Linked DNA regions of Homo sapiens: all the other regions are reported to be linked to region 3. Evidence: microRNA targets listed by miRTarBase, many of them from high-throughput screens and not tested one by one. Region 3 holds a microRNA gene; each other region holds the end of a gene's coding sequence. Distances are from middle to middle.

Region 1 (5,083 bases), not on the chromosome of region 3:
TGAACAGTAGGTTTTAAAATGTATTCTGAGTAGTCTAAGCTTTATTATTTGAAATAGAATGTTTTAAAACAATTTATATTGTAATAACAACATATATTTTAGAGTTTTTAGAGTATAGGATTTATTAAATTGTCTCTTAAAATAGGGAAAATAAATTCCTCTTTGAGTTCTTGAATAATTGTTCTATTATTTTCTTTGGTCTCATTTATAAGAGAGATTGTATTAGCAGTTGGAGTTCTAAGGAGTAGACTGCAGTGGACTTTTCAGGGCCAGTAGTGAGACAGAATAAAATGGTTTTAGGAAAGCCTTCTAATGTTATTATGCAACCAAATTGTTTAAATTAGGGAAAACTGTAATTTATTCATGGACCCTCTATAAATATCTGACTTAAATATTTTTTCTCCTAGCTATTTATTTGCCAGTATCACATATGGCTGGCAGCGGACACAAGGGGTATCTTGGTACTGATACCTGGAAACCCTATGCTCAACATCATTGTCAGCACTTTCATATTTGTTTGTGTGGCACATGAAATTTCTCAGATCACTAATGATCTTGCACAGATTATTATTCCTAAAGATAACTCATCTCTCTTGAAAAGGTTGGCATGTATAGCTGCATTTTTTTGTGGACTCCTCATCTTATCATCCATTCAAGATAAATCAAAACATTAGGTTCCAAAAATTCTAAAAAACCTAAACTCTTCAGGCTACCTTTGTGTGTCTCTAGAAGAGAAAAGCATCTATCTGGAGATATAAATGTGTATGTAAATATAAACGTTTGTGGCAAGAGGACAGTTCTGTGACATCTGTTGAACATATGTGGTTGTATATATTGGAAATGTACATATCCAATATGAAATACTAAAACAAACAAACAAACAAAAAACCAGAATGCATTGTATAGGATTGCATGTGAAGTCTTTTCTACTGAATCTATATTTCCATTTGTAAGTGATTTTAAGTTAACATATGAAGGCAGGGAAATGATTACCTTTCCAGTAAAAAGTATAGATAATTTAATTAACTTAGTGACACCACCAAGTGTTTTGATATAACTAAATTTGTGGTAATAAGACTGTCTGCACCTGTATTCATTGTGGAACTTCCTCTTTCATTGGAAACTTTCTTACTCAAGAATGACGGCAGTATTGTTTTCTTATATGTGCAATGAAGTGGAATGATAAACAGTATGCCTTTAATTTATATGTGTTCTTGTTCTGATGTTGTTTCCTGAAATGATTTTTCTTCCTAACTGTGGTTTTCGGGTATGCAAGCCTAAATCTTTGTACACTTTGTCTCACAGAATAGTTCTGAGGCTCCATGACAGGGTTTTGTCATTGTTGATGTTATTGTTGCTTCGTTTTATAAAAAAGCCAAAATTTTTTTTCCAATCCAAACGTTCACCTGTTTCCTTTCCTCAAGCTATACCAGTGTAATACCAGTTACCCTGTGGATCCATTTAATATGTTATCCCCACTAATTAATTTTCGTATATTATTTCCAATATTTGGAAAGCTCTTTATAGCCATTTGGTATTTCCTATTACCCACCTCCTATTTTAAATATTTATCAGTCTAAACTTGTGCAGTGTAGTAAACATGCAAGTTGTTACGATTGAGCTGTATTACCATAAGTAGAATTTTAAGTAAACTGGTGAATTTGGGCAATAAATGTTTTTGCTTTTTGTTTGATTTTTTTTTACAAGCTAACTGTTAGAGGTATACATTTATTTATCTGTTGTACAGATTTGATTATGATTTTAATGTTTGAAAGATTGCACTTGTTTGCTTTTACTATATGTGGGGTAAAATATATTTTCTGTTCACAGTATATGAAAATATGGAGTAATTTAAACAGTAAATAAACATTCTGTGGATGCTTATTTTTGTATTGGCAAAGTATCAATTAAACTATATGTGTTCTTTTTCAAAAATGCTGGATCCATTCATGATTGGTTCAAATATCTAATTATTTCCTCAACTTAAATTTGCTTTTTAAATTGCTTAATATGTAGGGGTAGGTTACCAAATGATAGTTGGATAAGGAATCATTTAGTTATCAGAGCTTCAGAGGGTCATCTGCTTTCCACCAAGGAAGTTTAAGCATTATGGTTCATTAGTGATTTTGCTTGAAGATTTTAAAAATGTACTTATTATTTATTTAGCACTGGATTTATGTGCTACTGATATACCTCCATTAATAGAGGAATATTTCTTGGACAGAGATGTGTGTTCTTTCCTTTTCTCTCTTCTTTTGCCCTTACTTAATCTTTTGACATTTCCCAGATAGACAATTGTAATGATTCATTGCTCTGCCTCCTAGACTGCAGCCTTATAAGTAGAGAATAGTATAGTTATAAATCAAAAACTTCCAAGTACTGTGATCACATTATTCTTGTTCATGTAGCTTGCCAATGAGTAGAGTGCATTTTAATTTAGCTTGTAAGTTTTATCACCTGAAAAAGATTCTTCTTGATGAAACAATTGAAAAAGAAAGATGACCAGTCTCCCTGTGTATTTTGGAAGCACTTATGTCTTCAGTAGGGATGCCGCAGTGAATATATGCTTTTCTCTCCTATTTGAACTGAAGCCTAAAACTTACCTGGTGAGCCCTGTTTCTTCATCACTTGTTCTTATTTAATATAAAGCACTATTTTTTACATATAATTATATAATAATCTGTATAATTTAAAAATAATTTATTTGTAGTTAAAAATATTTTTTATATTTGATTTTCTTAATTAGTCTTAAAAGGTTATTGTGGAAGTTGCCACAATGATAGCACCTATATATACGGTAAATGTCTTAATATTTTATTTTCTGCATCGACTCAGATACTGACCATTTGCATTACTCAATCATACCATTCTTTAGAATAAGATTTTTAACAGGATGTTTAGATATGCTAAAGTTGAGATAAAACCACAGAGGTTCTCTAAATTCAGATTTTTCTGTAATAGAAATCACAGTCAGAAATCTACCATCTGGCTTTAAAAGGTACTTGCTTGACTGAATTCTACCTCAATCGTTCCTCCTTTCCTTTGCCAAAACTTCCCATTTTTGTGGGTAGCCAATAGAAGCATTAAAAATTCAGCCCATCTAAATTAATAATGTTTTACAAGGATGTGGGACCCAAGTTCATTTATTATTCTATTCTCGAATGACTTTATACTAAAACCTTAAAACGGGAATGCATCCTGGATATAGTCATTGATATCATAAACTGGATGTGTTCCATGGCTTGCATTGCAGACAATTCAGTGTTTTGTGTAATGAATTGGATGTACCACATGGGAGTCTGTTGCATAACAGGAGATTAGGTAGTATTGTACTTACAGATTTTTGGAACAGTTGAAAGAAATTCAATTCTTCACATCATTCAAGAGAAAAATTACCTTTTTAGCTTAATAGTGAAGACTGAAATAAAGATTGACAATTTTGGTTGGCAGTTCAATCCATCTTACCACTTTGAATATTTCTCTGCAAAGACATTCAAAAATGATTGCATACATTTATGACTTAATTTGTTCATTCTTGTGTTCATTCCCCAAATCATAATTGTGATTTGGGGAAACTTATTTGGCAAGGTGTATTCTGGCTCATTTTCTTATTCTAAAAATGGTTTCCAGAAAAGGAAGTGGTCGTCCAAACTATATTCCCAAAATTGTGGTGTTTGATGACTGATTTCCAGAATAGATTTCTTATTTTATTTAATTAATTAATTAATTTTTTGAGGCAGGGTCTTACTCTGTCACCTAGGCTGGAGTGCAGTGGCGTGATCTTGGCTTACTGCAACCTCCGCCTCCTGGGTTCAAGCAATTCTCCTGCCTCAGCCTCCTGAGTAGCTGGAATTACAGGTGCCTGCCACCATACCTGGCTAATTTTTGTATTTTTAGTAGAGTTGGGGTTTCACCCTGTTGGCCAAGCTGGTCTCCAATTCCTGGCCTCAAGCGATCCACCTGCCTCAGCCTCCCAAAGTGCTGGGATTACAGGCGTGAGCCACTGTGCCTGGCCTGATTTTCTGATTTTAAATCTTACAAAAATTTAATGGCACTATTTGTTCTGCCTTTCCATATTAATAGTCATAGTAGAAACAAGGAGACACAAATGGAAGCTATTTAACTGGCATTCAATGTGGTACCAGAACCTAAATATAACAATATTGGAATACCCAAATTCTGTATATATGTCTGTGTGTGTGTGTGTGTGTGTGTGTGTGTATGTGTGTGTGTGTGTGTGTATATATATATGTATATATATGGAATAATTTCTTTTACAATTACGCAGACATTTATGTTCAAAAGTAACCATTATGAACAATTTGGGGGAAATATGAAATGGAATAAAATACCCTTTGTCTTTCAGGGATTCAGCAGTAAAATTGTCCTGAGCACCTGACATTTTACATCTTAGTAAAAAAGATACTAAAATTGTTTTGCTTTTGTTTTGTTTTGTTTTGAGAGGCAGTCTCGCTCTCTTGCCCAGGCTGGAGTGCAATGGCGCAATCTCGGCTCACTGCATCCTCTGCCTCCCAGGTTCAAGCAATTCTCCTGCCTCAGCTTCCCAGGTAGCTGGGATTACAGGTGTGCACCACCATGCCTGGCTAATTTTTATATTTTTAGTAGAGACGGGGTTTCACCGTGTTGGCCAGGCTGTTGTCGAATTCCTGACCTCAGGTGATCCACCTTCCTCGGTCTCCCAAAGTGCTAGGATATAGGCGTGAGCCACCGTGCCCAGCCAAAAATGTATTAAAATTCTTATTTGGAATTCAAAGTAAAACTAAGAAAAATGGAATAATTAAATGTATTTTCCCTTTATTTTCAAATTAAAATATCTTCAATATTATACATGCCTATGTTATATTAAAAGCTTATACTATCATTCAGTAAAAATAAAGCTTGATTCTATATCTGGCAGTTTTGTTGGTTTGTTTTGTTGTTTTAATTCTTAGGCTTTGTCTTTCTCTTTTCTATCCATCCTTAGTACTTGATTTTTGACTGTAGCTCTTTCATAAGTAGGTTAGTATTTGTTTTGTTTTTAACAAGTCACAGGGTCAAAGTCCTGCTGATAGACGGAATGAAT
Region 2 (5,083 bases), 100 Mb from region 3:
TGCAGAAGTTTGGGCACAGCCTTTACTCTTTACTTCTTTCTTGTGTTTTAGATCCATCACTCGCGCCTACTACAGGAACTCAGTAGGTGGTCTTCTCTTATTTGACATTACCAACCGCAGGTCCTTCCAGAATGTCCATGAGTGGTTAGAAGAGACCAAAGTACACGTTCAGCCCTACCAAATTGTATTTGTTCTGGTGGGTCACAAGTGTGACCTGGATACACAGAGGCAAGTGACTCGCCACGAGGCCGAGAAACTGGCTGCTGCATACGGCATGAAGTACATTGAAACGTCAGCCCGAGATGCCATTAATGTGGAGAAAGCCTTCACAGACCTGACAAGAGACATATATGAGCTGGTTAAAAGGGGGGAGATTACAATCCAGGAGGGCTGGGAAGGGGTGAAGAGTGGATTTGTACCAAATGTGGTTCACTCTTCAGAAGAGGTTGTCAAATCAGAGAGGAGATGTTTGTGCTAGTCAGTTCTTTTATTTCCAAAACATGCTCTCCTACTTGAACTGAAAAGTAAGAGAAATAAATAGAATCTTTGTGTAACTGATGAGAACTCAACCTCCATTTGGATACCAAGTGAGCCTCCCTCTCAGGGGGACTCTGACAGACTCGTGTGCGGGTGGATGGGGGTGCCTGAGTGCTGTGACCAAGGGACTGAATTGCTGACATGGGCCAGGCCAGGCACTGTTTTGTGGCCCATGCTAGGCAGTGGCTGCTCCATGAGCCCTTTGTGGACCACATGTTAAAGGCCTGGGGTTTAGGAAGCTAAGTCCCAGGAAAACATACCTACAGACAGGACAACTGTTCCTTGGTATTTGAGCTCACTTATAGGCCATGAACATAAAGAAATACATAAAGGGGAAAAAAGTTTCACAATGGGGACAATTAGCATAACTAAACAAAGATTATGAGCTCTACTTATTCCGTGAGAATACCCTGCACCAAAGGTGTTTGCTGGGTTTGGTTAAAAGGTACCAATTAGCTTTTAACAGCTTTCTGTAAAATGAGGAACACAGACCAAAAGGTCTGGTGTTCAAGTAAAAATGATGTGACTATGGAAAGGAAGGCAATCGACACAGTTATTAGCACATTTCAGAAAATGAACACCCTTGTGATAGAATTACCAGCTGTATGAAACAAATTGTCCCATGCAAATTACCCTATAACTAGGAAAGAGACACTATAACCCAAATGCCATACCCCCTTTTTCCTTTGACCATGCCTGGGGTTTCAATGCCTTGGCACCTGCAATCTGGAAGTAAACAGTCTGCTTGCTTCTTCAGGCACGTGACAGTGACAACACAGTGACTGCCTCTGAAAAGAGCCCTGAGGCAAACACTCTCTCCTGCTGAACAGGAGGCACTGTAACCCTTACAAACAGCTTACAGTTACTTGGGCTACTTATTTGATCATCATAACAGGCCTACGAGGTTTTTGCCCCATTTTACAGAATAGTAAACTAAGAGCCATGAAAATCACTTGGCCAGGGTCAAGGACTCGTGACTCCTAGCTCTTTTCACTGCATCATACTGCTGTCAGATGAATAAATGATTATGAATTTGTTTACTTGGGAAGAGATATGACTATAAATAAATGTTCTCTACATGTTAGGATATGTTTTCCTTATTGATTACAACTCAGCTATAATCCTGAGGGAACATGGGAAGGAATCAAAGGTAAAGCCCATTCAGGCATTATTGACAAGAGGGCTTTAAACAAGTGAATAATTGCACAACTAAAAAGACATTAGAACTGTGTGGGCTATAAGTGTTCTTATCACTGAGACACAGTGGATTTTTATTGAAAGGAACCACGTACAGCAATGCGGAGTGGGATAGGGATAAAATACCCACCCCAAAATGACCTTGGCCACCTGTCTGCCATATACGTACACTGAGTTCCTGTCTACCCAAGAGAGTCAGCCCTTAATTCTCAGGTGAACAAACAGCTAACTGCATCAGCAAATTGGAATGGCTGGCTTGAAGTTTCCATTATTTTCTTGAAGAGAGGTGATGCTTTAAATTACTTTTTGGATTGTAGCCAGTTCAGCTAGGCAAAAGCCATACTTTTCACAATTAAAAAAAAAAACTATTCTGACTAGAGTCAGGTTTCTCATATCCATTGTGATAGGAAGGCCTAAGAATGGCAAATCGCTTTGAGATATAATATTGAACTTCAGTATGAATGTGACCGAATCTGAAACTTTGGGAATTTGCTTTAGCCAGAATAAAGAAACCAAATCATGAAAATTATGGAAGACTATTCTGCCACCTGTGCCCCAAGTTGGATGAGCAAACCACTTTGGATCAGTTCACAGCATTAACTACAAGTGAACTGATCATCTTCTCTATATTCATTTCACAAGAGCTGGCTTAGGTGGGGTAATTAAATTGCCACCTTCGTGGTTGTAAAAGACAAACAAAACATGGCAAATTTCATTAACACAAAATTTCATCAACTGCTATACTGAATTATGTTTAGAAGATTCTGAAAGCAAGATTATCCAGTGGGTAAATGAGAGTCGACTGGATTCTGTCAGTTCAAAAAAGGAAAGAAACAAAACTTCCCTACAATTTTCTTCACTAAAATTTATTATATGTACAGTATTCCCACTCCTGGCATTTTCTGGCAGGTTTAAAAATATTCAGCATAAATCCAGCAGAGGTGGCTGAGCTTAATTGCTTAAATAAGTTCTAGAAAATTTAAAAATCATTTTAGTAGAATTCAGTACCATTGTCACTGCAATAAGTGGGTTTTAGAAAATAAGTGTGAAAAGAATCAGGTGTTAATATAATACTAAGGATAAAGCTTTAGAAGCTATTTTACTACATAGGTAAAGAAAAGATAAACTAACTTGTAACAAAGACCACAACTGCATGTTGGATTAGATTGTCTCATATTTCAGAATAAAATGTACTGTATACTTTTCCTCACTTTGTTGTGCACTGTAATGAAATGTGAAAAATGCTTTATTTAGCTGTATGTGAATGAAAATATGCTTGTATTTAGTAAAATGATTGATTATGTGACTGTGAGATTCCAAGTGTGTGTTATAGCTATTTCCAGAATCTGTTACTACAGCGTAGCAACTACTACCAAGGATATCAATAAGATGTGACATATACCATACACAATCGTATTCACCATTACCTTAAAGCCAGAAAGAGAATATAATTTTTGAAAGTTATCTGACCATCATATCAAAAGTCCCTGGGACCTCAATACTTCCTGGTGAGCATATGCCACTTTGAGAAAAGTTGGTTCTGTCAAGCCTAAATCTTCATCATGATGATTTTTAATCAAGAGTCTTAATTCTGTTGCCAAGTAGTTGATTACAACTATTATGTTCCCTGGAAAGTCTTCTTTTTTCCAGGCTAAGTTGCCTCAGCTTTTTCAAATCCTACTACGGCATGCTTTTTATGCCAGGATCACTTACAGTGTGGCACCAACATAAGAACACAATAGTTCAGCACATTTCCCAGGATTGATAGTACACATGAGGGTGGGGGGAGGGTTAAAAAAAAAAGGAAAGATAATGGATTCTGAGTCTGGGCATAAGTAGATAGGTAGCCTAAGTTCTGTACAGCTTTATCACATTTATATTAATTCTCTTATAGATTTAAGAGACGTGGCTCCAAAAGTCATTGCTGACAGCTCAACCTAGAGTCTTACTCTTTAGTCTTCCCTGGGTAACAATAAAGTGTAGGGCACACAGAAAAGGGAAAGGAAACTTACAAGGAGACAATGAAATCCTGGAGAGTACAGTTTTATAGGATGGTGTGAACAGTAGTATCAAAATGCAGCAGTCGATTCAGAAAGATAAAAACTAAAATGAATCCGCAAGATTTGAGAGAACAGGAAGTCATGAGTGGCCTTTGCCGGCATAGTGTTGGTGGAATGATTGCTGCCTATATTAAGCCTCTCAGGAACTTGGTGTTCTCAGTTCTGTCAGAGGACCAATTCTCTTCTCTCTTTCTTCTCTCTATCCTCTCCTCTCCCTAGACAATCTTACCCACTCTCGTGACTTCAGTTACCATCTTTCCATTGCTGATTCCAAAATCAGTAACTCTAGCTCACTTTTCTGAACGTTATATCAATACAGCCAACTTGCCTACTAAACAAAGCCACAGATTTCTCAGACTCAACATATCCAATACTAAAATCAATGTCTTCAACGTCTATCAAAATGTGCTCCAACAACCCCGGTCTTCCTCAGCTCTATAAATGACACCACCATTCACAGAAATTGGGAGTTATTCTTAATTCCTCACTCCCCCTCATTTCTCATATCAAATCCATCATCTAGCACTGTCAACTCTAACTTCAAAATATGTGTCTGACCCTGGGCAACACAATGAGACCCCATCTCTCCTAAAAAAAAAATAGCCCAGCATGGTAGCACATGCCTGTAGTCCCAGCTACAAGGGAGGGTGAGGTGGGAGGATCACTTCAGTGAGCTGTAATCACACCGCTGCACTCCAGCCTGGGTGACAGAGCAAGACCCTGTCTCAAATAAATAAACAAATATATAAATAAATATATGTACGTGTGTGTGAGTGTGTGTGTGTGTGTGTCTGCCACTTTTCTCCATCTCCATTGATACCACGTTTGTCCAGGCCACTATGAACTCTTACTTCGCTATCTTCCTAACTAGCCTCCCTAGTCCTTGTTCCCACTCCCATGATACATTCTCAACCTAACAGCCAGAGTGATCTTTTCACAACGTAAGTCAGATCAAGTAATTCCTCTGATTAAAACCCACTGATGGTTTATTGTCACATTTAGAACAAAATCCAAATAAACCCTACATTTCTTAACATGGCTACAAATCTTACTCATCTTGTTCACCAGTATTTCTCTAACTTGTAGCAAGTTAGGTGCTTGAATCATCTATACATACTTGAATGAATGATTGTTTTCTTGCTCTACTTTAATCCAATGACCTTGATTCTTACTTCACATCAGTAAAATACACACATGTCCCTATCTTGAAGCATTACCAAATTTTATACAGCCTCTAGAGTTCTGATTATAAGTTCTGGTTGCTCACTCTCTCCTATGAGACCTGCTTT
Region 3 (5,000 bases):
TAGGCATGTGCCACCATACCTGACTAATTTTTTGTATATTTAGTAGAGACAGGGTCTTGCCATGTTGCCCAGGCTGGTCTCAAACTCCTAAGCTCTAGCAATCCACCCACCTCGGCCTCCCAAAGTGCTGGGATTACAGGCGTGAGCCACTGCGTCCAGCCCTTCAAAATCTTTTTTTTTTTTTTTTTTTTCCTGAGACAGAGTCTTGCTCTGTTGCCCAGGCTGGAGTGCAGTGGCGTGTTCTCAGCTCACTGAAGCCTCCACTTCCTGGGTTCAAGCAATTCTCCTGCCTCAGCCTCCTGAGTAGCTGGGACCACAGGCGAGTGTCACCAAGCCTGGCTAATTTTTGTATTTTGAGTAGAGGCGGGGTTTCGCCGTGTTGGCCAGGTTGGTCTCGAACTCCTGACCTCAGGTGATCCACCCGCCTCGGCCTCCCAAAAATGCTGGGATTACAGGCATGAACCACTGCGCCTGGCCCAAAATTCTTAAAGTATGCTTTCCATTCCCTTGCACACATTCCTGTTCTATTACTAATAAAATGCAATCATTACACAGTTGAAGAATAGCAAAATGAGTTCATGCCCAAAGGTAAAATAATTATATGCTCCAATTAATGAAAGACAAGTCACTTTATAATGACATCTGCCTCACCCTAAACACCATCTGTCCCCTTCCATGTCTCTTTTCTTCCAGTCCAAATTATCCAAGGAACATCTACAACTTTGTCTGATGGAGGCAACACTGCTAAGACTAAGTGTGAATATGCCACACACCAGGGAAAGTAGTAAGTTGTATAGTTATCTTCTAATTGGGGCCTAATATCCCTACCCCACAACAATACAACTTACTACCTCACCCTGGCATGAGCAGAATCCTCTAATAAGGGCAGCAGGCAAAAGGCCATTTTACATGGTGACAGACTCTTTTAAAGATCTTTTGCTAGATTAAGGGTACCAAGGCATCTACCCTACTTCACTGCTTTAAAAAATATTGTGCAGGCTTTGGTACAATCATTTTCCAACTCAAGTGCGAAAGGAGACAGGTGTAGGGAGGCAGAAGAATGTTCTGAGGAAATATGGGTGGGGGAGACATATGATATCACATGAACCAACTGATAGAATCACAAAATGGCTACTGACCATTGTTAAGAAGATCAGAGGGAATAGGAAACATACGGCAGTCATACCACTAAGCCCAGAGAGCTACCTTCATGAACAGCACACTATCCAAGACAATGTTCCTAGACTTTTAGATTCCATGGACCAATAAAATTTAATTAAAAAAAGAACAAAAAGTAGAGACTAATGTAGGGGTTGCCAACTTTTAGTTTAGCCATGTAAGAAAAAACATCCAATCAACATCATTTAATAAAAATATTTTGGTACCACAGAATTAGGAATATGATCTCTAAATACAAAAACAGCCTTTTAAATGGAATAAATTCAGCTTTATGAAAAAGGCATTAAAGCTCCTTGATTTTGTTCGTTTCCACAGAGGACTGGCATTTGAGAACCACTGTCATCAGTTATTCTCATGAAGTGCCACACCATGGTGGTCATCAAAGGACCAGCCACTTCAAAGATGTACATGAACATGCTGTTTCAGAGGACAGAGTTGCAGTCAGGAAATGAACAAGACACATGACCTCATTACCCATGCCAGAACAAAGTAGATAATAACCAGAACAAGAACCTGAACAGAGCCAGTCGGAGAAGAAGTGTACCACCGTGGGAAAGACAGTAGACTGTATAGTTATCTCCAAGATGGGGTATGACCCTAAAACTATACAATCTACTACCTCATCCCACAGAGCACCAGTGTCCATCTTCAGCCTATGTGGGCCAGCTACTCGGAACTATCAGGATAAAGAAGCAACCAATTGATTAGTAAGAAGGGAGAAAGGGAAGGAGAGTTACCTGAGAGATTCTGTTCAGTGGAGTCATTTGACTTAGATGCAGTACACTGCAAAAAGAAGGGATAGACCAATGTGGGACTTTGCAAGCACCTAAGATAGAGGTCAACTGTAATAGTCACCATCCTCCACCCAGACCATCTAGGAGTTCAGTGATCTAATGGAGAATGCTTTGGCCATGTGACCAAAGGAAGGTGATCATTTCACTGTGCAAATATATGACCAATTTCTCTATACATACTCAGGTTCAAGAATTGTTTGGGGCTGAGGGGGAAATAAATATGGAAGGAAAGGATAATAAAAACCCCTTAGGGATGGGCACGATCATGATCATTCTAGCAAGAATTTCTTGGTTTCATCTATGTATTTTTTCCCTTCATGGGGCTTATTTTTTATTTTGTCCACTCTAGTCTTTTCAGTCACAGGCTAGGTTCACTTATTTTTCATCCTATATCAAGTTTGAAACAATGTGTGTATTAGGTAAAAAGTTCTATATAAAGATATTTGTTAGATCAACCTTGTTATTTTAACTGAACACTTCACTACCCTTATTTTTAATCTACCTGATTCCTTAACTGCTGAGTAGGGTATACTAAAGTCTTTCACTCTCAAGTCTTATTTCTTTGTATTTCTATCAGTTTTTCCCCCTTTTATATCAAGTGATACACTGTAATGTATAATTCTATCAACATTTACTCAGACATTTAAAAGATCTCTGTCTGAGGTCCCAGAAGTTTCAGAAAAAAGTAGGTAACTTCCTTCTAAACCAAAATTGTATTAGTGATTTTATACATGTGAGCCCTAGAAAAAATGACATGTGGTGATGGGGTTCAGAGTACAAACATTTTCTCTGATCTGACACCTAGGCTGATCTTACTCAAATGACGGAATGGGGTCATCTCGGTAAGATTCCCCACACTGGCAGTTCACCGACAGAAATGGAAGTGGGCGACTAAGAGCATGGACTTAGATAAGGTTTTTCTCCTTGTCTTGATGCTGTCCTTGGCGGTAGAGACTATGCAGTGTGACTGTTGAGTGAGAAGCCATTCTGCTTCTGGCTCCAGTTTTTCCCTTGACACTTGAGAAATCTCCCCTCTAGGTTTGAATTCTTTCCCCTAAAAACCAGGTCAATGTATGGTGAATTTGAAATAAAAAATTTCCCAGGTTCAACGTGAACGTTCTAGGATTCTTCAGTGATTCCTGGTGCCATGTGTATGCCAAAACCACATTACGGCAGACACAGTCAAAGATGAATCCTCCCAGCCCTTGGGAATCACCTGTGCACTCTGATCCCTGTTCTCCTTATCTTCTTTGCCTTTATCAGTTATCTTTGTTTCTTCCTCAGCCAGTTGTTTCCTGCGCTTCTCTCGCCTTTCTTCCAGCTCCTCATCCCTCAGGAATTCCAGGTGATTGACAATGGACACTTTAACCACTGTTTCAAAGAGGCAAAAATCAAAGGCTGCTCTGGTGGGGTCAGGGAGGAAGCCAAGAGGCAGAGCTTGTAGCCACAGAGAACCAGGGAAACAACTCTCCACACGTTTGCCCTAGCTCTGGAAGGCTCACTATTGCCCTGATAACCAAGCTGCCACGCACCTGAAACACAGTCATGCATGCTCTCAGCATCGAGAACTTTGCATTCTTCTGTCCAGCGGGTCAGGGCTGTGGGGATGCTGGACAGGGTTCCTGTAGGGACAGCAAAGGGGAATGAGATTCTTGGCCTTGTCAAGCATTAACTGATCCACCGATCCAAAAATTGCAGTATTTCCCTAAAAGGACCCAAGGTCTATCACAATGTTTAGAACATAACAAGTACCTAGAGACAATAAAGTTTTTGTTGCCCATGGCTAAGTCACTGAGTGGTTCTGGCTCCTATAAAATGGGGGTTTTCTATAGGGCAGACACTGTCTTGCTTTTCCTCAGCAGGGAAAAAGTAGAATCTGACAAATTCTACCCTCCCTTTCACCACACAAACTTGCCTGCTTGGCTGGTAGCTGTGCTCTGATCATGGAAAAAGTCATCCAGCAGCTCATCATCAGAACGGGCGATGATGTGGACGTCATCGTTGCCTACCAGGAGGCGGGCCCGACCCCGGCTTTGTAGGGGAAGGCTGCTGCTCAGCTGAAGGATGTCAGCAGCAGCTGAGGGACCAAGCAACCTGTAGGGTAATGGTGGGTACCATGATCACTGTTAAGTCCAGAGGTGCCCTGCAACCTGTTACCATGAGATCCTCTTCATGCATCCTCTATTAAATGCAGAACATGATTATAAACCTGATGATGTGCACACAAGTCTAAGTTATTTTTCTGAATACCACCCTGGTTTTGTACTTAAGTTGTATATTATTCCATAGTTCCTGGCACCAAGTGGGTGTCAATAAGCTCCCACGTGCCAGGCACTGCGTCAGGTCACATTGCCTCCACTACACCCTCTCTGTCGTCTGTACACCAACCATTACAACACTTATATGCCTTTCTTTTACTTCTTAAGATTGTTTGTCTCACTAAACTCTAAGCCTGAGGGCAGGGATCTTGTCCCGTCTATATCTAAAGTGTTAAGTGCTTGGCATGAGACACTTAATAATTGCTAAATACATGCGCAGAACTATTGACATAATTTGGTATTCCCCAAAAGGCTGCACTCCCCAAAAGGCTACACATGTAATCCACAAAGAAATGGAACAAATACCTTATTTGTGTGTATGACAAGAACATTAAGTGATGGACTATTTCCCCCAAGGTTAAGACAATGCTAAAGCACAGTGAAAATTCTTACAAGAGCTCCGATGAATCCAACAGATCTCTGTAACTCACCTCTGCAGTATAAGAGGAGGGTTGGGCTGGCGATTCCCAGGGTAGTGAACATGAATGGTGTGGCCAGTATTGGCCGTCAGCTGCCTTAGGGTCCTCTGACTGCGCCCGATGCCCTGGGTGAGACGAGTTGTTGAAGAGCCACTGCCCAGTGTCAGAGAACTGTGGTCTGCATGGCGCACCATCAGTGGATGGGTGGTAGGGATATTTCCTGGGGATGGGGGGATGTCTGCTGCAAGGACAATATGTAAAAGGGTCAGTGTCAAAAAGAAATTTCTTCC

The links. The annotated mature microRNA hsa-let-7f-2-3p reads CUAUACAGUCUACUGUCUUUCC and lies in region 3 at 1,731-1,752, opposite strand. An mRNA with a match to its seed (bases 2 to 7 or 8) in the 3' UTR can be bound and repressed. Matches are read on the target gene's strand: a 7mer-m8 pairs with bases 2 to 8, a 7mer-A1 pairs with bases 2 to 7 and ends in A, and an 8mer does both.
Region 1: the mRNA of CASD1 is a reported target of hsa-let-7f-2-3p. The part of its 3' UTR that is shown has no 7-base or 8-base seed match.
Region 2: the mRNA of RAB39B is a reported target of hsa-let-7f-2-3p. Seed matches in the 3' UTR shown: 7mer-m8 at 2,928-2,934.

Annotation. Positions count from the first base shown.
Region 1 is chr7:94,555,085-94,560,167 of GRCh38, forward strand. CASD1 (CAS1 domain sialic acid O acetyltransferase 1) reads left to right here. Exons shown (of 18, transcript NM_022900.5): 18 at 408-1,935. The coding sequence ends at 674. It overlaps LOC105375404 (a long non-coding RNA gene), which reads right to left and starts at 3,411. Exons shown (of 4, transcript XR_007060433.1): 1 at 3,338-3,411. RefSeq lists an enhancer at 1,026-1,075.
Region 2 is chrX:155,256,198-155,261,280 of GRCh38, reverse strand. RAB39B (RAB39B, member RAS oncogene family) reads left to right here. Exons shown (of 2, transcript NM_171998.4): 2 at 52-3,046. The coding sequence ends at 478. Among named protein-coding and RNA genes, the nearest start is that of RAB39B, 5.8 kb to the left of the region's middle.
Region 3 is chrX:53,555,466-53,560,465 of GRCh38, forward strand. MIRLET7F2 (microRNA let-7f-2) reads right to left here and starts at 1,809; the gene lies at 1,727-1,809. It overlaps HUWE1 (HECT, UBA and WWE domain containing E3 ubiquitin protein ligase 1), which reads right to left. Exons shown (of 84, transcript NM_031407.7): 56 at 4,723-4,951; 57 at 3,889-4,067; 58 at 3,506-3,595; 59 at 3,190-3,344; 60 at 1,917-1,962. MIR98 (microRNA 98) reads right to left here and starts at 876; the gene lies at 758-876.